Linked DNA regions of Homo sapiens: regions 2, 3 and 4 are each linked to region 1. Evidence: fine-mapped expression QTL. A gene starts in region 1. Each other region holds a variant in brackets. All regions are shown on one strand. Distances are between the middles of the regions.

Region 1 (4,350 bases):
GTGTCACTTCAAGCTTACGCTTCTCACCTCCAGCCCACGGTGTCCCTGCTCTCCCCGCCCCATTACACAGCACTTTTCCTGAAGAATAAGTAAGCTCTAGTGACACACTTTGCTCTCTGCATTCCTTTCTTGCCAGGACTTGAACTGTGCCCTTATCAAGTGCCCAGGTACTCACATTCTCTCAGACTAAGCCCACCTTACTTCCCGGGATGCTAATAACAAACATCTAACTGGCTTTGATCTCCTTTGACCTGCTGTGTCCAGGACCAAGCCTTTATACTGATGACCAGATCTCTCTATCCACACCAGACATACATGGAACTCCTACATACAGGCAACTGCCTGGGAAAAGTGTTCTCTCCTTTCCTGCTTTGAGCACACATCAGTGGCACAGAGTGGGTAACTGGAACACGTGTTTAATTTGAAGCACTCTGTCCTCCCAACCTGCCTTCTTTGTATCCTCCTTAAAAAACCAATTAACATGGTCAAGCAGGTGATCTGAATTGCCTATGGTACGTGCAAGGTAGTAGATAATATTAAACCCCTTATTCCCATCTACCTTAGGTATTGTTATCTACTCTTAACAAAGCTTTCCCTTTAACTTCCTTAACTCCAGGCATTACAGCCTTTACTTAAGATTCTACAGCAATACTACCAGGGCCCAAGATACCCACACAACACTGAGATTATCCACATTTCCTATTAGGGAGTTGGGTTTCTGTGGCCCACCAGCTGAGTATGTTTGCCATCATTTTCTCCCTGGGCTCTTCTAAGTCTTGATTTTTAAGCTGAGGTGCTCATATTCCTGTGCACCTTCTGCAATCCTGAGCGTTACCTGTGCTGTCTACTTCTCTATCAAGTCAGGACCCTCTACTCCGACAGCCGCCTGAACTAGAAACCTAAACGGAACAGACTCGCAGCTAGAAGCAGAGCTCTGGTGTGAAGTACCATTTTCTGTTAATTACCCAGCTCCCACTCCACATTTCGGAACTTCCAGGTTCCTTCCCTGAGGCCCCCGGTGCAGAGGATTCCCCTTTAGTTCACTTGTGCTCGGTCCTCCTCTCCCAAATGCAGGTCCACTCACACTTCCTGGAAGTCACAGTTGTACCTACTTCATCTTATCTGGCTTAATAATAAACCAAACTCGTGACAGCCCAGACCTCTGAAGCACATCCTGTGGCCCGATTATCTCTGATGTCCTTAGCACCTTATTGCCTCCAGTATACACAAGTTTAGGAAATCATCTCAAGTGGACTGACACGTGCTTCCTTCACTTTTCCTCTTAAAATGCTCATGTGAATGGTAAGCTTCTCAAATTTGCAGCAGCGCTGGGATTTTTTATGGAATTGAGAAAGGCAGGGCCTGACTTTCCACTCTTTAAAGAGTTCACCGATTTCCCTTAGGAGTTTCTCAAGACTCAAAAAAGGAAAAGAAAGAGAAAAAGGAAGGTAGAAAGCAATGTAGGTATTAACCATTTTTTCTGGTACTCTTCAAACCCAAAACTACTATAGAGGGCGTTAGGAATTCCCCCTGGCTACCAGGTGAAGCAGCGCGAGTCCGATTCCTGACAGGCGAGCACCAGAGAGGATGCGGAGTTTTGGTCGTTAGTTTAGAGATAACATCTGGATGCGGGGGCTTGTCTTACCAACCACTGGAGACACCAGGAAGGACGAAATAATGGGCTAATACAGAAAGAACATAGAAAAGGGTCCCAGATACCCAAAGCCTCCTGGCCTCTCCGTCGTCACCTGGAATGGGTTGCAAAGCCTTGGCACAGGCAGCTGGGCTGTGTCCCCTCCCGCCGCGCGCCCCGGGCCGCCCGGACGGCACCTCCTTACCTTGCGGGAGTACGGGGGCTTGCTCAGGTGGATGCCGTCACGGACGAGCTTATCCCTGATCATGATCTTCAGCTTCAGTTTGGGGTAGCTCACCAGCTCCCTGCTGCGGGGGGCGGTCGTGTGGCCGCGAGAGTCCCCGCGGGTGCCCTGGGCCGGGCCGCCGCACGGCTCCCCCCGGCGGCCGGTGGGGACGGCGTCGGCGGGCGGCCCGGGGGGCGCCGGCTGCGGCTCAAGCGTGAAGTAGAGGCCGGCGGCGTTGGCGTCCTGCTCCCGCAGCCGGCGCACGGCCTCCAGGATACGGCGGCGGTGCGCGGGCGCCAGCACCCCGATGGCATCCAGGTCCGGGTCCCCGATCTGCTTGCACACCTCCAGGTCATCGTAGCCGTTATCCACGAAGGACTCCGCGTACTGCGGAAGCTGCAGCGCTTTGAGCCACTCGTAAACTATGTTGGTGCACATGGTGGGACCGGGAACCCCGCCGCCGAGCACCTTCCCAGCGCCCAAATGGCACGGGCGGCACCAGTTCTTGGAACTTTTAATCCTCTCCTCCAAGGGGAAAAGGGTATCGCAGTAAAGTTTTCCTTTTAAAGGAAAGGCTCGGGCAGGAGACGGAAAACCATCAGAAGAAGCCTGAGGAAGGGAGAAGCGAACAAGCAGCAAAGTGAATTCCCCAAGCAGCAGCGGAGCTCGCAGGCACTGGCTGCTGGGCTGAGCAAGGCTCCGCGCCGCCCCTGGATGCGCCGCCGACGCTGCCGCCGCGGGGAGGGGCGCGCGACTGGCGCGGGAGGGGGCGGAGACGGGAGGGGCCGGGGCACACCCCTCGGACCTGCGCCGGGTCAGCGCTGCGCAGTGCCGCCCGCGAGTTTTCCCAGCCGGGACGGTCCGGCGGCTGCGCGCCGCATCTCGCGCTCTGGCAGCCGCCGCCGCCGCTGGCGCGCTCCGCGCCGCGAGGCGACTTCTCCACGCAGACCCGCGGCCGCTGGGAGCGCCTAGTCTTCGCGAGTGTCAGTCACTGTAGTCCTCCCGGCGGGAAGCCGGTGGCTTCTACGCTGCTGGGCTCCGTTGGCTGCCCTGGGTTGCTTTTCACATTTCTGTTTAATCTGACTCTTCTACCCGTGGAAGTCTGTGCTCACTTCTTCCCGACCCTGCCGGACTCCAGCTTCCGCGCCCGCTGGCAGCCCAAGGACACGTCCCGCCGCCCCACGGCGCTGGGGACGCTGCGGGGTTCAGTGTCCCTTCCTTCCGGATCCGCGTTTGAATCCCCCTTCCTCGGATCCCGTACGCAGCCCAGAGCCCGGCGATCTGACTTCTTCCGTGGGCGGCCACTCAGTGACCCGAGCGGCGGCGTTTTGGCCCGGAGGGTGGGCGCAACGTGGGGACCGCCCGGGTCCAGCCGGCTTGCGCGCCGCCCCTCCTCGCTGCAGCTGGGCACGTTGGGCGGCAGGAGAGGCTGCTGTCTTCCTGGCTCTCCCTTCCTAAGCTCCCGGGTCTGCGAAAGTTTGGGGTGGGTTGTACTTTCTCCTAGGTCAGTGTGTCCCACCCGGTACCCCACCCTCCTTTCTGCCCGGCCCCTCCCCCTCGTCGGCGCTATGCTTTCTCTCCGGGCCCCCCACCTAGTATACTGCACGGGCTCCCGGGGTGGCTTTGCCCCCGGGGACACTGCCAGGCGTTCGGTCCTGGAGCCCGGGAATCCGAGCCTATCCTCTCGCTCCCGCCCGGGGATCGCGTGAAAATCAATAGAGCACCACCCAGCTCGTGTTGGAAGGGACGCTCAGACATCTCCGCCCACGGCATTTTCCCTCTAGGAGGTAACAAAATCAATCGAGTTTCCCCATCATGCCAATGTCTGAGCAGCCTCTTGGGACTGGGGACTCGAGTGGCAGGTGGAACAGACCAAGCGCCTGGGCCCCATTTCCCGGTGTCTGACCTCTTCTTGGGACTAAGGGAAGTGAGGGACGGCGGGGGCAGGTACTGTCTCCTCTCTTTCCGCAGAAGGGCGATTCAGCTTCGCACCTGAGCTGTTTAAGGACCAGATCTGACCTTTTTTTCTGAAGATTGCCCGTGGGGCGTGCCAGTCTCTCGCCCGACCTTGGGAAGTGGACAAGGAGTGATTTCAGAGTCGTTTCTCGACCTGCTGTGTGTTTGGCATTTGGGTGGGTGGTTAGGTGGGCCCTCTTATCCTAAACCAAGAGAGCTTAACCCCCTCTTGGGACACGAACCCCTTAAAGAATCAGATGACAGCTTCTGTCCTTTTGCCCAGGAAAATACCCGACATAGGCGCACCCAAAACGTTCCCTACAGTCGCAGGGGGGTTCTGGTTTCCCAAACCCCGGGACTCACGAATCTCAAATTAAGGACAGCTGGCAGAAAGGACTGTCTGCTTAGGGGGAGGGGAGAGACCAACGCGGAGAGCCGGTGGAGCTGCTTGTGGCCCCAAACTTGGGTCACCCGGGACGCCCTTTCCGGAACCGAGTTAAGGTCTCGGACCCTGGTAGGTGGCGAAGCTCCTGGG
Region 2 (4,350 bases), 160 kb before region 1:
GAGCAGTTTTCAATTTACATTTACAGCACAACATTGTGTCATTAGCATAACCATTGAACAACTGTGAATAAATACCAAGTCATACTTACTGTTAATCCTTCCTAATAATCACAGAGCTTAAAATTGCCTTGTACACTACATTTTTATTAATTACCCAAATACCTGAAGACCTCTAACCCATTATCCTTTTTTTTCTGACAAACTGACCTCCACTTTCTTTTAAAACCCTATTCCTGCATAGATTAAACCCTCCTTTTCCCTCCATCTTTCATTCATGTTGCTCTTATTGACAACACTCTAGATATAGGTGACCTTCACCATAGTCTCATCACCGAAGAATTGATGTTTAAGGTTCTTAATTTTTTCTTTTAATTATATTTTTCATGGATTTGATACATCTGATTAAAAAAATGAAATCAGCATTTAACAATAGTTAGGTTACTATATCTTGCTTTTATTAAGCCAGGAAAAAAAAACCTGATACCATCAATAAATAGAGGAAGTGTCCGCACAAGTATCATTTTCCAAAAGAAAAGGCTAAAAATCTTATTTTAAAAAATGGTTTTTGGCGGGGTGCGGTGGCTCACACCTGTAATCCCAGCATTTCAGGAGGCCGAGGCAGACGGATCAAGAGGTCAGGCGATCAAGACCATCCTGGCTAACACAGTGAAACCCCGTCTCTAACAAAAATACAAAAAATAAGCTGGGCGTGGTGGCAGGCACCTGTAGTCCCAGCTACTCAGGAGGCTGAGGCAGGAGAATGGCGTGAACCCAGGAGGCGGAGCTTGCAGTGAGCAGAGATCACGCCACTGCACTCCTGCCTGGGCAACAGAGCAAGACTCTGTATCAAAAAAAAAAAAAATGGTTTTTGCTTTTTGGTATCAAAATTTATCTGAGCTGAGACATTTAAATGTTTATTTCTAAACAATTAATCAGCATTCAAGGTATTTCTGTAAGAGCCAAGGAGCCAAGGACAAGATAAGAAAAATCAGTATTATTATTACTATTCAACATTATTCTAGAAGTTCTAGCCAACAAAATAACACAAGAAAAAGGTAAGAGTAGCATAATTGTAGAAAGAGAAGAATTAAAGCTATCACTTACCTAGAAGATGCAAGACAAAAGTAAGTCATGCTATACTGTTTGGTCTAACAGTAAACTATGTTAAACAGTTACAACAATGTAAATAGTGGCTTTTGGTTTAAAATAAATAAATAAATAAATTGTGAAATGTATTATTTGGAAGGAACTTAAGGAGCAAAAGAGAGGGATTTTTAAAAAGTAAATCTTCACCTAGAAAATCAATAAATGATGAAATACCAAGAAAGAGCAGTATAATCAGAACATTTAGAAATATGAAGATATATGCAACAAAAAAAATTGCTTAAAGTGGCCTCTGTGGAAGGTGGATGTGGGGGATAAGGGTGGGGGGCTATTATAAGGAGACTGATTTTCTTCAATATAAGCCTTTTAGTGTTATTTGCTATTGATTTATTTAACTATGTTAAACATTTCCTGGATAAAAATATACCATGATTATCCATACAAAGAATACGCAGTTTCTCAAAAGAATAGAGTACATCCCCACGCACTAACATGAAAATATCTAACACATTGTAAGTGAAAAAATATTCATGTTGCAGAACTGTTCAAAGTGATGGAGAAGCATTTTCTCTTTATATTTTATAAATTTAGACTTTGGAAAATTTACCACAATATATACTTTAACATTTTGTAATTAAAGAATTTCTCAATCCAAGAACATCCACTGAACATATGCTAAAATTAATCAAAGTATACCATAAAGTGACTAGAACAAGGTAAGCAAAAATCAGTTTCCTTGTGTATCTTTAATAATAATTACAACACATAATGGAAAATTTTCCATTCACAATAATGGCAAAAAGTATAAAATACTAGCATTAAGACAAATAACAAAAGTACACATGCTATAATATTTTATAAAAAGCTACAAATAAAAATCTGTAAGTAGAGAGGTTAACCATGTTCCTGGTTGGAAAACTCAATATTGTAAACACGTAAACGCTCCTAAAATTTATTTATATATTCAATGCAGACTGCAACAAAATCCCCAAGAGAATTTTCTATGGAATTTGTCAAGTTGATTTTAAAATCCATCTGGAAGGGTAAATGTGCAAGA[T/C]GAGCTAAAAAAAAAAAAAAAAAAAAAAATCCTGAAAAAGAAAAATGAGAAGAAACATGTCCTATTAAATATAAAGCATATTATAAATTTCCAGTAATTTTCAAAATGTGGCACTAGAGCAATAATGAACAAGAAGATAAATGAAAATGGGAGAAAAGATAAGCAATTGACATTCAAAAAATAGGACGGACACATAAAAAGATCCAAAATTTTTATGAAAACAGAAGAAATAATTAAGTAATGGGTGGCTTGTTGCTCAATTTGTTGAAGATATTAAGCAAAAAATTAATAACACCCAATGACCAAAGACCCACTAGGAAACAATGTTCTCTTATGCTATTGGTGTTAGCAACTTGTTTCAGCCATTCTGGGAACAATTTGGTAGAAACTCTGTATGTTAAAAGTGCTTAAACCTTGACTTAGTAAGTCTACTTCTGAAACTCTGTCCTACAGATATATTAATCCGTATATCAAAAATACATGCATACTTCATTTTATTGTGCTTTGCTTTATTGTAGTTTTCAGATACTGCACTCTTCACAGATGGAAAGTCTGTGGCAAGCCTGCATCAAACAAGTCTTATGGCGCCATTTTTCCAACAGCATGTGCTCACTTTGTGTCTCTGTGTCATATTTTGGTAATGTTTCAAACTTTTCATTATACCTGCTATGGTGATCTGTGATCAGAGACCTTTGATGTTACCCCTGTAGTTGTTGCGGGGTGCCACAAACTGCTCCCACATGATGGTGAATTCAATCAATAAATATGTGTTCTGACTGCTCCACTGACCTGCCATTCTTCTGTCCCTCTTGCCCTTCTTAAGCCTCTCTATTTCACTGAGACACAACATTGAAATTGGGCCAGCTAATAAGCTTACAATGATCTCGAAGTGTTCAAGTGAAAGGAAGAGTTGCATTTCTCTCACTTTAAGTCAAAAGCTAGAAATTATTAAGCTTAGTGAAGTAGTCATGTCAAAAGCCAAGATGGGCCAAAAGCTAGGCCTCTGGTGCCAAACAGGAAAGATGCGAATGCAAAGGCAAAGTTTTTAAAGGAAATGTAAAGTGCTACTACGGTGAACACATGAATGACAGAAAACCAAAATTAGCCTTATTGCTGATATGGAGAAACTTAATAGTCTAGATAAAAGATCCTAACAGCCACAACATTCCTTTAACTCAAAGCCTAATTCAAAGCAGGGCTCTAACTCTCTTCAATTCTAAGAAGGCTGACAGAGGTAAGGAAGCTGTAGAAGAAAAGTCTGAAGCTAGGAAATGTTGGTTCATGAAGTTTAAGAAAAGAAGCCATCACCAACACATAAAAGTGCAAGGTGAAGCAGGAAGTGCTGATAGAAAAGCTGCAGCAAGTTATTCAGAAGATTTAAGATCATGGGTGAAAGCAGCTAAACTAAACAACAGAGTTTCAATGTACATGAAGCAGCCTTCTATTGGAAGAAGTTGCCATCTAAGACTTTCATAGCTTTAAAGGAGAAGTCAATGTCTGAGTTCAAAGCTTCAACAGAAAGGCTGATTCTCTTGTTAGGGACTAATGCTGCTGACTTGAAGCTGAAGCTAATGCTCATTCAATCATTCTGGAAATCTTAGGGCCCTTAAGAGTTATGCTAAATTTACTCTGTTTGTGTTCTATAAGTGGAACAACAAAGCCTGCCTAACAACACATCTCTTTACAACATGGCTTATTGAATATTTTAAGCCCATTGTTGAGATCTACTTCTCAGAAAAAGGAAAAAAATCCTTTCAAAATATTACCACTCATTGACAATGCACCTGGTCATCCAAGAGCTCTGATGGAGATGTACAAAGAGATGAATGCTGTTTTCATGCTTGGTAATAACATCCTTCCTGCAGCCCATGGATCAAGGAGTAATTCTGACTTTCAAGTCTTATTTAAGAAACACATTTCGTAAGGTGGTAGCTTCCAAAGATTGTGATTCCTCTGATGGATCTGGGCAAAGTAAATTGAAACCTTTTGGAAGGAATTCACCATTCTAGATGTCATTAAGAAGATCCATGATTCATGAAAGAAGGTCAAAATATCAACATAAACAAGAGTTTGGAAGAAATTGATTCCAATCCTCATGAATGATTTTGAGGGGTTCAAGACTTCAGTGGAGAAAGTAATTGCAGATGTGGTGGAAACAGCAAGAGAACTAGAATTAGAAGTGGAGCTAG
Region 3 (4,350 bases), 170 kb before region 1:
AAAGAATATATACAAATGCACATAAGCACACGAAGAGATGCCTGACATCATTCATCATTAAGGAAATAAAAACTATAATGACATTCTACTACAAACTTATTTGAGTTTCTAAAATGAAAAAGTCTGGCCATCCCAAGCATTGACTATAATGTAAAGCTACTGAACTCTCATACTCTGCAGTCTGAATACAAAATGATACAACTGCTTTGGAAAATAGTCCAGAAGTTTCTTTAAAAGTGATACATAGACCCACTATTCGATCCAGCCACTCCACTCCTAGAAAAAGGTAAAATGTGATCTTATAAAAATGTGTACATAAATATTCATAGATTTATTTGTAATAATCACAAACTGGAAACAACCCAAACACCCATCAACAGGTGAATGGGTAAACAAATTGTGGTATATCTATCCATTAAATTGTGGTATATATAGCCATATATTAGTACACAATTATATTACTGAACATCACTCAGCCATAAAAAGCAATGAACTATTGAGACATACAACAATACACTTTTGGAGACGATGGATATGTTCATTATCTTGATTGTGGTGATGGTTTCATGGGTATACACCTGTGTCAAACTTAACACAATTGTACACTTGGAATATGTGCAGTTTATTGTATGACAAGTATACCTCATTAAAGGTGTTTTAAAAAAAGAGAGCTCACTTATGCCAAGAACACACTAAAGTAACACAGTGAGAAAACCCTTCCCTCTTCCATGAACTCCCATTTCTCAAGGCGTTCTTTTATGGCTTATTTCTCTATGCTGGGACATCCTTCCACCCATTTCATCTAAGTGTTTGGTTTTGAATAAGATTGTTGATGAGGAGAGGTAACAGGTATAGATGAGGTCCCCCATCTTTCTGCCTACCAGAAAAGAGAGTTTTGGTAGACTTAAGAAAAGCCCTAAAAAGGAAGAAAATTATCCTGATTTATTACTTATGTTACAGCGAGTGATCTGGCAGGAAACAAAACCAGCAGTTAATCTGCCAAGCTGAAAAAATGCAACCCCTTTGTTGGTTGTTATGAAGCATTCAGCTGTTTTATAGTGGAAGTCTATCAAATTCAATACATTTTACATGATTGCAAATTCCTTAAAATATGAAGACACTATAACAGCATAACAATGAGAGACTGTGTTAGTTTACAATAACAAATTTTGTTATTCTTTGTAAATCCTACTGTTTTATTTTTAATAGTGACAAGACAGAAAATGCTAACAATGTTATGTTAATATAAGTGAGTACGTGTGCTTTAATGTGCAAACGAGAAGATAAGAGTTGCCTTTGCCTTCTTTCAGAAGTTTAAGTCAGGCGTATAAAATAAGACAATCTTATGGGAAAATGCATCTATAAATATCTATGATAATTTACCATAAATTACACATTATCCTGCTCCCACCTCCACCCCTCAGTGGAGTAAATGCCCTTAACCAAAGAGGTAGGATGAGAACCAATTGCACCATTCTTTATCTTTTCTACATAAGCTCTGTTAAATGCAACCCTAAATGGAGCAGCTATTTTCAGGGTAATATAAGATGACACTTGGGATATTGCCAGGAGTGTTTCAATTATTCAAAAGTGCCTGAGCATGGAAGGGGCTGGCTTGCTCACTTTTTGGTTGGGCCTCTAAGGTGACAATTCACAAGGCTCCCTACTAACTACGATGCAACCACCATACACCCTCTAACCTCCCCATCCCTTTACAGTGCCGATGTCCCATGGCCTTGCTCCCAAGCCCCCGCCCGCCATCCCTGGGCACCCTTCCTGCTTCCTCCATAGTGGTGAGCTTGGCCCAGAGCTCTTCTGCTGCCCAGCCCCTTTATGCTACTCTGAGGCTTCATCCTCTTGGGGTTTTTTAATCCCATTATCTGTGTTAGATACTCAACTCAATCCCATTCTCTCTGTTAGATACAGATCACATTTTTCCTCCATTTTCTCACATTAAATGTAACTTAATTTTCCTCAAGCTCAAAGTTTACCCTCTAAACCTTCCCAATGGCAGCCACTCCTTTTCCAACACCAACTCATTGCTGCTTCCAAGTCATTGCTTTCCCAGTTCTCTGGGCTGTTTCTCCACTGAAGTTCCTTACCACACCACTTTCTCCCCCTCCTCCACCTCATTCAGGAACTTCAGAGTGGCTCTGCCATCATTCTTAGAAACTCTCTTACTACTCAAGTTGATAATTCCTTTAATATTCAGTTCTTCTCAAAGTCATTCCCTAGCCTTGTCCAATACAGAGAGGTCCGGGTTTGCAGACTCTGAGACATCCTTGCTGATGACATGACTATCCGCAGCACACCGCATTCCTCAGTCACCCTCCACTCCTAAACATCAGCAGGCTGACATTGTC[G/A]GTAGCTCTGAAGATTTGATTTATGAGCTCAAGTCATAAAAATCAGGAAAAGAGCCACTGTCTTTCTTTAAGAAAGAAAATCCTCCTTTGATTGAGCAAAGCCAGTCCATTTATATGCTAATTTTATTTTTATCTGGCCCCTCACCATCTGGCCCCAGCTTCTGTCATTTCTTACTCTCACTCCCCCTCCCTCAATTCTGTATTTCATCCAGCCCCCTCTACCCTGATCTTCTAGCTCCCCTACCCCCACCCCCACCCCCAGGCCACTCTTTCCTCCTTAGACATGTGCTTTGCTCGTGGCAATCTCTCTACTGGAAAGCTGCATCTCTCCTGGATATTTCTATCGCTTCTTCAAGGTCTGGTTTAAATGTTACTTTCTCTTTGAATCCTTTCTCAGCTGTCTTAGGATGATTCATCCCTACTCATGTATATACTGACTGCCTACAATGTGCCAGGCATGTTCTAGGGTGTAGGGATCCATCAATGAGCAAAACAGATGAAAATCCCTACCCTCGTTGAATTCACCTTCCAATAGGAGGAAATCAATAATATACAAGAGGTATAGACTTTAAAAATAGTACACTATTTACTAACAGCATACTCTACCAATAAGTGCTATAAACCAGGATAGAAAAATAATGAGTGCTGAGAGTTGGGAAGGAAATTGCAATATTAAAATTAGGTGGTCTAAGAAAGCCCCACTGAATAGATGATCTTTCAGCAAACACCTGAAGGAGCTGAGGAAGTGAGCTTGCATTTGAAGAATGGCAAGATCAGTGTTCATTGCTAGTATCTCGGTGTCCAGAGTTGGACTGTGAATTCTGTGAGGTGAGAGACTTCTCACAGGTTTGTACTGCCAGTTTCCAAAATGGTCCCCAGCATCTTGCCGGGGTTGAATAAAAATGATGTTTGAATTGAACTTAATACCTACAGCATGCTCTGCTTATTCCTGTCCAGGTCCATTTCCCATTTTCAGATGACTTTTCTCAGGGGTAACATTACAAGCAGGCAACTGAGTGAAAGATGACAAACTTCAATTACCATAAAAGCAACTTACTCCACGCTTTCACCATGCAGTGTAAAATAAACAGTTAAAAGGTAACTGTGCTTGGTGTTGATATATTGAAACTTAAGCTAAATTCTTGGTATTCTCCAACATATTTACAAGTGGGTAATAAAATGCAAAGGAAGTTTATTTCTTTTGCGTGGCATTAATGTAAATGACCAGCAGTTTCATTACCCTTGAACTTCAGTGATTTGCTGCAGCTCTGCATTAACAGAAAATCACTGTCAGTTCATTTTAAATGGATTCTATGAAGGTGTTATAATTTTCCCCTTATACAAAAAACATCCTAAAATCTACATTTAAGTTATATTACTGGACCAATCAATGGCCACAATACTGTATCAAATACAGCAAATTTAAGAGTGAGGCCTTAATGACATATACCATGTATACGTTTCAATTAAAATAAATCAGAAGCTAACAACCACTGGCAAAAACTCCTACACATACAAAACCCGCGTAGAATAAGTTAAAATGATTCATAAAAAAGAACAAAGAAACATTCATCCCTAATGAGATGACATCACTGAAGAGTAAAACAGTATCTAGAACATCTGTTTCAATTACGTTGTTGGGGAGCCAGTCATGTTTTATAGTACGGATGTATATGAGGTATTCACTTGGCAAGGTAACCTCAACAGGAAAGCAGAGGGAACACGTTCAGGATGGGTTCTTCACATTTCAGAGCTTACTTGTGGTTACAATTCTAAAGGAAGCCCAGGAACATAGGCTGAAACTCTGCTTCAGTCATAATTAAAGCATTTATTCTCCCTATTAGAATGATAGGCTATCCATAAAACCTAAGAGAAAATGGGTGTTTGATGCATGATTCTCCTGTTACTCTCTGAAAGTAACTGTTTTTGTATGAACATTCTGGTTTTTATGTCTTTGAGGGTTTTTTGTCAAAGCTGTGGGGCAATA
Region 4 (4,350 bases), 360 kb before region 1:
GAGTGATGGGGAGTGGCTGTGAGGACAGATGAAGCTTCCTGGCTTGCCCACCACTCACCTCCTGCTGTGTGGCCTGGTTCCCAACAGGCCACAGACCAGGGGCTGGGGACCCCTGTTCTAGGGGATAGAACACTCAGCTGACAAGAGAGTAGAAGAGAAGAGGGATGAGATAGTCGAATGGAAATTATTAGTTATAGCTGCTTAACAGCTCTGGGCAGGCTGGACTTCAATGCATACTAGAGGCATGTGGGGGTGTAAAGAAGGTCATACCTCACAGACAGTAAAAGAGTTAAGAGGGGACCACTACTTGGTCGTTGCTCTAAGTGGTGCAGGCCATTGGTGTATCTTCAGTAACTAGAACTCTGCTGGGTTCAGTAAAACTGGGCATTCTAATCACATAATTCACATTTCTCAAATAAGGTTGTTTTTAAGGTCTTAGGGGAAAAATAGTGCATATAATGTAAACCAAAATAAACCTGACAAGTATAGAATTAGTGTTAAAATTTGAGAAACTGTCTTTCTAATCATGAGAGAATTTTAAAGTGACTATTATTATTATTTTAAATGAAGAAGTTTTAAAATTCAACTTGGAAGTGCAAACACAAACTTAAAAGGTAAGTAAATGAACAATCTTTGCTTAAGAAAACAGTAACATGCGGAAATAGGCAATTAAGAGAGTTCCTCTCTTACCATTTGGGCATTTTCTCTGAGTGAAGTCATGTGAGCCTCCCAGAAAACTCTTAACGCAGCTTAACATAATCAGGCCATTTTCAAAGTCCTGCCCGAATCCCACAGACGTAATTTGTCACTATAAACATGTACAATCATAAAGGACCACTAAAATTAAAGTAAAACCAATGCTGATTATCAAATTTATTTTTGTGAAAAGTCCAAATCTCCATGCTGCCCCTCCCAAAATTCTTGTTCGACATCTTCAAAAGTACTGATGCTGTGAGTTCTGATTATGAAAGCACAGAGATCCTCTTCACAGATGAACTTTTTCTTTGCATAGCACTTGTCCATCCTTCTTTATAGTCCAAATTCAGACCCAATGCCCTGTCTTTGCTGTGGACTTAAAAAAAGCAGCAATGACTACTCGGCCAAATGCTCCAGCTCCTGCCACCAGCTGGCCGGAGGGCCGGCTGTCCTGAGCAAACACCCTAAGAATGTCATTGCCCACGCAACAACGGGCTTCTCGGTCCTCATACAAAAGCTTCAATTTAATATGGGTTGCAAAGCTAGCTTGACAAAAAATCCAAGAAAAGGTCATTTTAGATTGAACACAGCTTTTCAATAATAGGAATTACCTAATGCAACACATGGGCATGTTCTTCCTTTACCCGAGAGAGCTAGAGACATTTTAGATCAATAATGGGATGAAGAAATCTAAGATCTAATATGAAATGGGTAAAGACCTTAAGAGTCAGATATGTAATATTTCTGTAATGCCTAAACTGTGAAGCCATAATTAAGGAAGTAAAGCCAATCAGCCTGTTTCCCCACCCTAGGAAAAAGCCTTCTATTCTTGCTTAGCATTGCCTAAAGTTTTTTGAGCAATTAAGTAAGCATAGTATCATGTTCACTAAAAGCAGACAGTAGCTGAGACAGATTTCTCCTATATACATGGTACATTTTTTTAAATGCTGTAACTTTTGATGACTTGTTCTCAAGAGACATATAATATAAAACAATCCACTGACTCATTCT[A/G]TTTTTCCTATGTATAAGTTTGCTGCTAATTTGGGGTTTTTGAAATAACATTGGTGATGCATCATAAAATACTTCCTAACTTTCCAGAAGGTATATAGGACATTAAAAGAATCTATGCATGGAAACCACTGTAGCTAGCTCAATGAATAAAGAAGTAAAGATAAATCTGATAAAAAGAAAGTACTGAATATTTTAATTACAAGGAAAGGAAGCCAAATTAAATAATAAGTCATTATTTTAACTCAGGTACTTTAAAATTTCTCTAATTATAAAATTAGAACCACTTAATAAAAATTTATACTTTTAATAAATAATCCATATAATAACTAGTAAGTACCATTAGCATTAGTACGATATATACACAGAAAACCTTCCTACATCATATGAATATTTCAAAATAATTTTATTTTCATGTCTTGGGTCACTCTTTTTCCTCTTTCTATAAAACTCACATTACAATTAATAGCAACATGCATTTTTTTAAACCCTAGACTATTGAAAAATCAACTAACAACACAGTCAGAATAGATACCAGACAAATATACTTAGTTGTTAAATTACTTTTTTTTTTTTTTTGAGATGGAGTCTCACTCTGTCACCAGGCTGGAGTGCAGTGGCGCGATCTTGGCTCACTACAACCTCTGCCTCCTTGGTTCAAGCGATTCTCCTGCCTCAGCCTCCCGAGTAGCTGGGACTACAGGCGTGCACCACCACGCCCAGCTAATTTTTGTATTTTTAGTAGAGACAGGGCTTCACCATGTTGGCCAGGATGGTCTCAATCTCTTGACCTCATGATCCACCCACTTCAACCTCCCAAAGTGCTGGGATTACAGGCGTGAGCCACAGCACCCGGCCTTAAATTACACTTTTAATATACAGCTAGTTTCTCATCATATTTAAGAGTGCAATTTTTAAGGGCAATGCTACCAAGGCATAGATCAATTCAGTTCGCACTTGTGTTGATTATGTGCTTGTACAAGGCACTACGATGGCCCCGAAGCTGATTAAAAAGAAAACACCAAGGAAAATTGTTTAAAATTGGACACACTTCCTGTCTTCATGGAGCTATGGGACTTGTTGGGGAGCAGAATTTCCAATTTGAGTTAGATTTTTTCAATATGGCATCAGGTGGTACTGACCCATCCATTTGTTCTCATTGATTAGCCATCATTAGTGTGGCCTGAACACAGTGCCATCAGACTGAGTGTAGGTGATGGGAAAGGGATTTTCCTCATGTCTGTTCCATCACGGACCATGAAGTGGGCAAGTCCATGAGCACCAGGTCAGTCCCCATGAATACTCATTCCATACTCCACTAGGGAAAAGCAGTATAGAGGAGTGATGCAAACATGAGTTCAAATCCAGCTTCTTGCCTCCCCCTAGCAATGTGACCTTTGGCAAGGAACCCAACCCACTGATGTGTTTCCTCATTTGTAAAATGAGGATAATAACCCACCCTTACTGGGATGCTATGAGGATCAAATTAGTTAATTCAGGCAAAGCGCTTAACAATAGTGCTTGGCATAGAGCAAGTTTAGAATGATTACATAATAGACCAGGCACAGGTAGCTCATGCTTATAATCCCACAAGTTTGGGAGGCTGAGGTGAGAGGGTCTCTTGAGGCTAGGAGATTTAGATCAGCCTGGACAACAGAGCAAGACCCCATCTCTAAAAAAAAACAGCCAGGCATGGTGGTGCACACCTGTAATCCTACCTGCTTGGGAGGCTGAGGTGGGAGGACTGCTTGAGCCCAGGAATTCAAGGTTACAGTGAGCTGTGATTGTGCAACTGCACTCCAGCCTGGGTGACAGAGCAAGACCATGTCTTAATAATACTACCACTACCACTAATACTAATACTAATATAGTGTGTTTATGAATCAGAATAACGTTGTTGCAAACTGGAGAAATGCTCATGATTCTTCTCAGTAGGTAAGACTGTTCTCCTTTTCTTAATTAGAATCACTGGATTCCTGTTAAATTAAATTTACATATATATTATTTTTCTGAATGCTAAGTTTCTCTTTAATTACTTTGAAGAAAGAGAGTTACAGATTTAATTCGCTATATTAGAAACAACTGGTTGGCCTCATGAAAATAAAATTTAGAACGTAGCAGGAATTACAGTAGGGGAAGAAAGTCTGAAAGAAAACTGGAAAAAACTGACAGATTTTTGAACGGTGTAATCAAACATGCCTTTTCCTAATACTGCTGCCTTGCCTGATGTCTCTAATAGGACAAAGGGGAGGACAAAGTGAGTTGCTTAAGGTTCTAGATAGCACTAGAGATAAGCAATAAGATGTTGCCGGTACCCAAGGAATAAACTGGAATGATATTGTTAATTTTGCCATTCTGATAAAGTGAAGAGAAGGACAAATAAAATTTCCTAACTTTTCTCACCTTTGTATCTCTCTTTCCTTTACTTCTTTTATTTTGAGGCTCTGCCCAGTCATCTTTAAAAAGAGGTTACATTTTAGAGATTTGTCTTGTCCTGTTTTTGTTTTTGTTTTTTCCGTTTCAGTGGGAAAATGAGCCTTAAACAGTTGCCTAATAACATCAAAGCTAGAGAGGTACAATGGTAAATTTGTATAGTTTTTATAGTTTTATTCTTAAGCCTAAATGTATCTCTTTTGATATTAGTAA

Which allele goes with the higher level. Positions count from the first base shown, and alleles are read on the strand shown. Sizes are in standard deviations (SD) of each study's normalised expression. Not every link is listed here.
As copies of C replace T in region 2, the expression in prefrontal cortex of the gene that starts at base 2,536 in region 1 goes up (small effect, 0.25 SD a copy in ROSMAP).

The links. PIP is the estimated chance that this variant, and not a neighbour inherited with it, causes the effect.
Region 2: its variant is the best candidate, but not a certain one, in a credible set for the expression of SAMD5 in prefrontal cortex (ROSMAP, PIP 0.59).
Region 3: its variant is the best candidate, but not a certain one, in a credible set for the expression of SAMD5 in cerebral cortex (GTEx, PIP 0.73).
Region 4: its variant is the best candidate, but not a certain one, in a credible set for the expression of SAMD5 in tibial nerve (GTEx, PIP 0.89).

The regions. Positions count from the first base shown.
Region 1 is chr6:147,506,876-147,511,225 of GRCh38, reverse strand. SAMD5 (sterile alpha motif domain containing 5) reads right to left here and starts at 2,536. Exons shown (of 2, transcript NM_001030060.3): 1 at 1,839-2,536. The coding sequence starts at 2,297. RefSeq lists a silencer at 4,335-4,350.
Region 2 is chr6:147,669,730-147,674,079 of GRCh38, reverse strand. It overlaps a transcript of SAMD5 not described here. Among named protein-coding and RNA genes, the nearest start is that of SAMD5, 160 kb to the right of the region's middle. The variant T/C (reference allele first, on the strand shown) is at 2,162.
Region 3 is chr6:147,675,100-147,679,449 of GRCh38, reverse strand. It overlaps a transcript of SAMD5 not described here. Among named protein-coding and RNA genes, the nearest start is that of SAMD5, 170 kb to the right of the region's middle. The variant G/A (reference allele first, on the strand shown) is at 2,364.
Region 4 is chr6:147,871,309-147,875,658 of GRCh38, reverse strand. It overlaps a transcript of SAMD5 not described here. Among named protein-coding and RNA genes, the nearest start is that of SAMD5, 360 kb to the right of the region's middle. The variant A/G (reference allele first, on the strand shown) is at 1,708.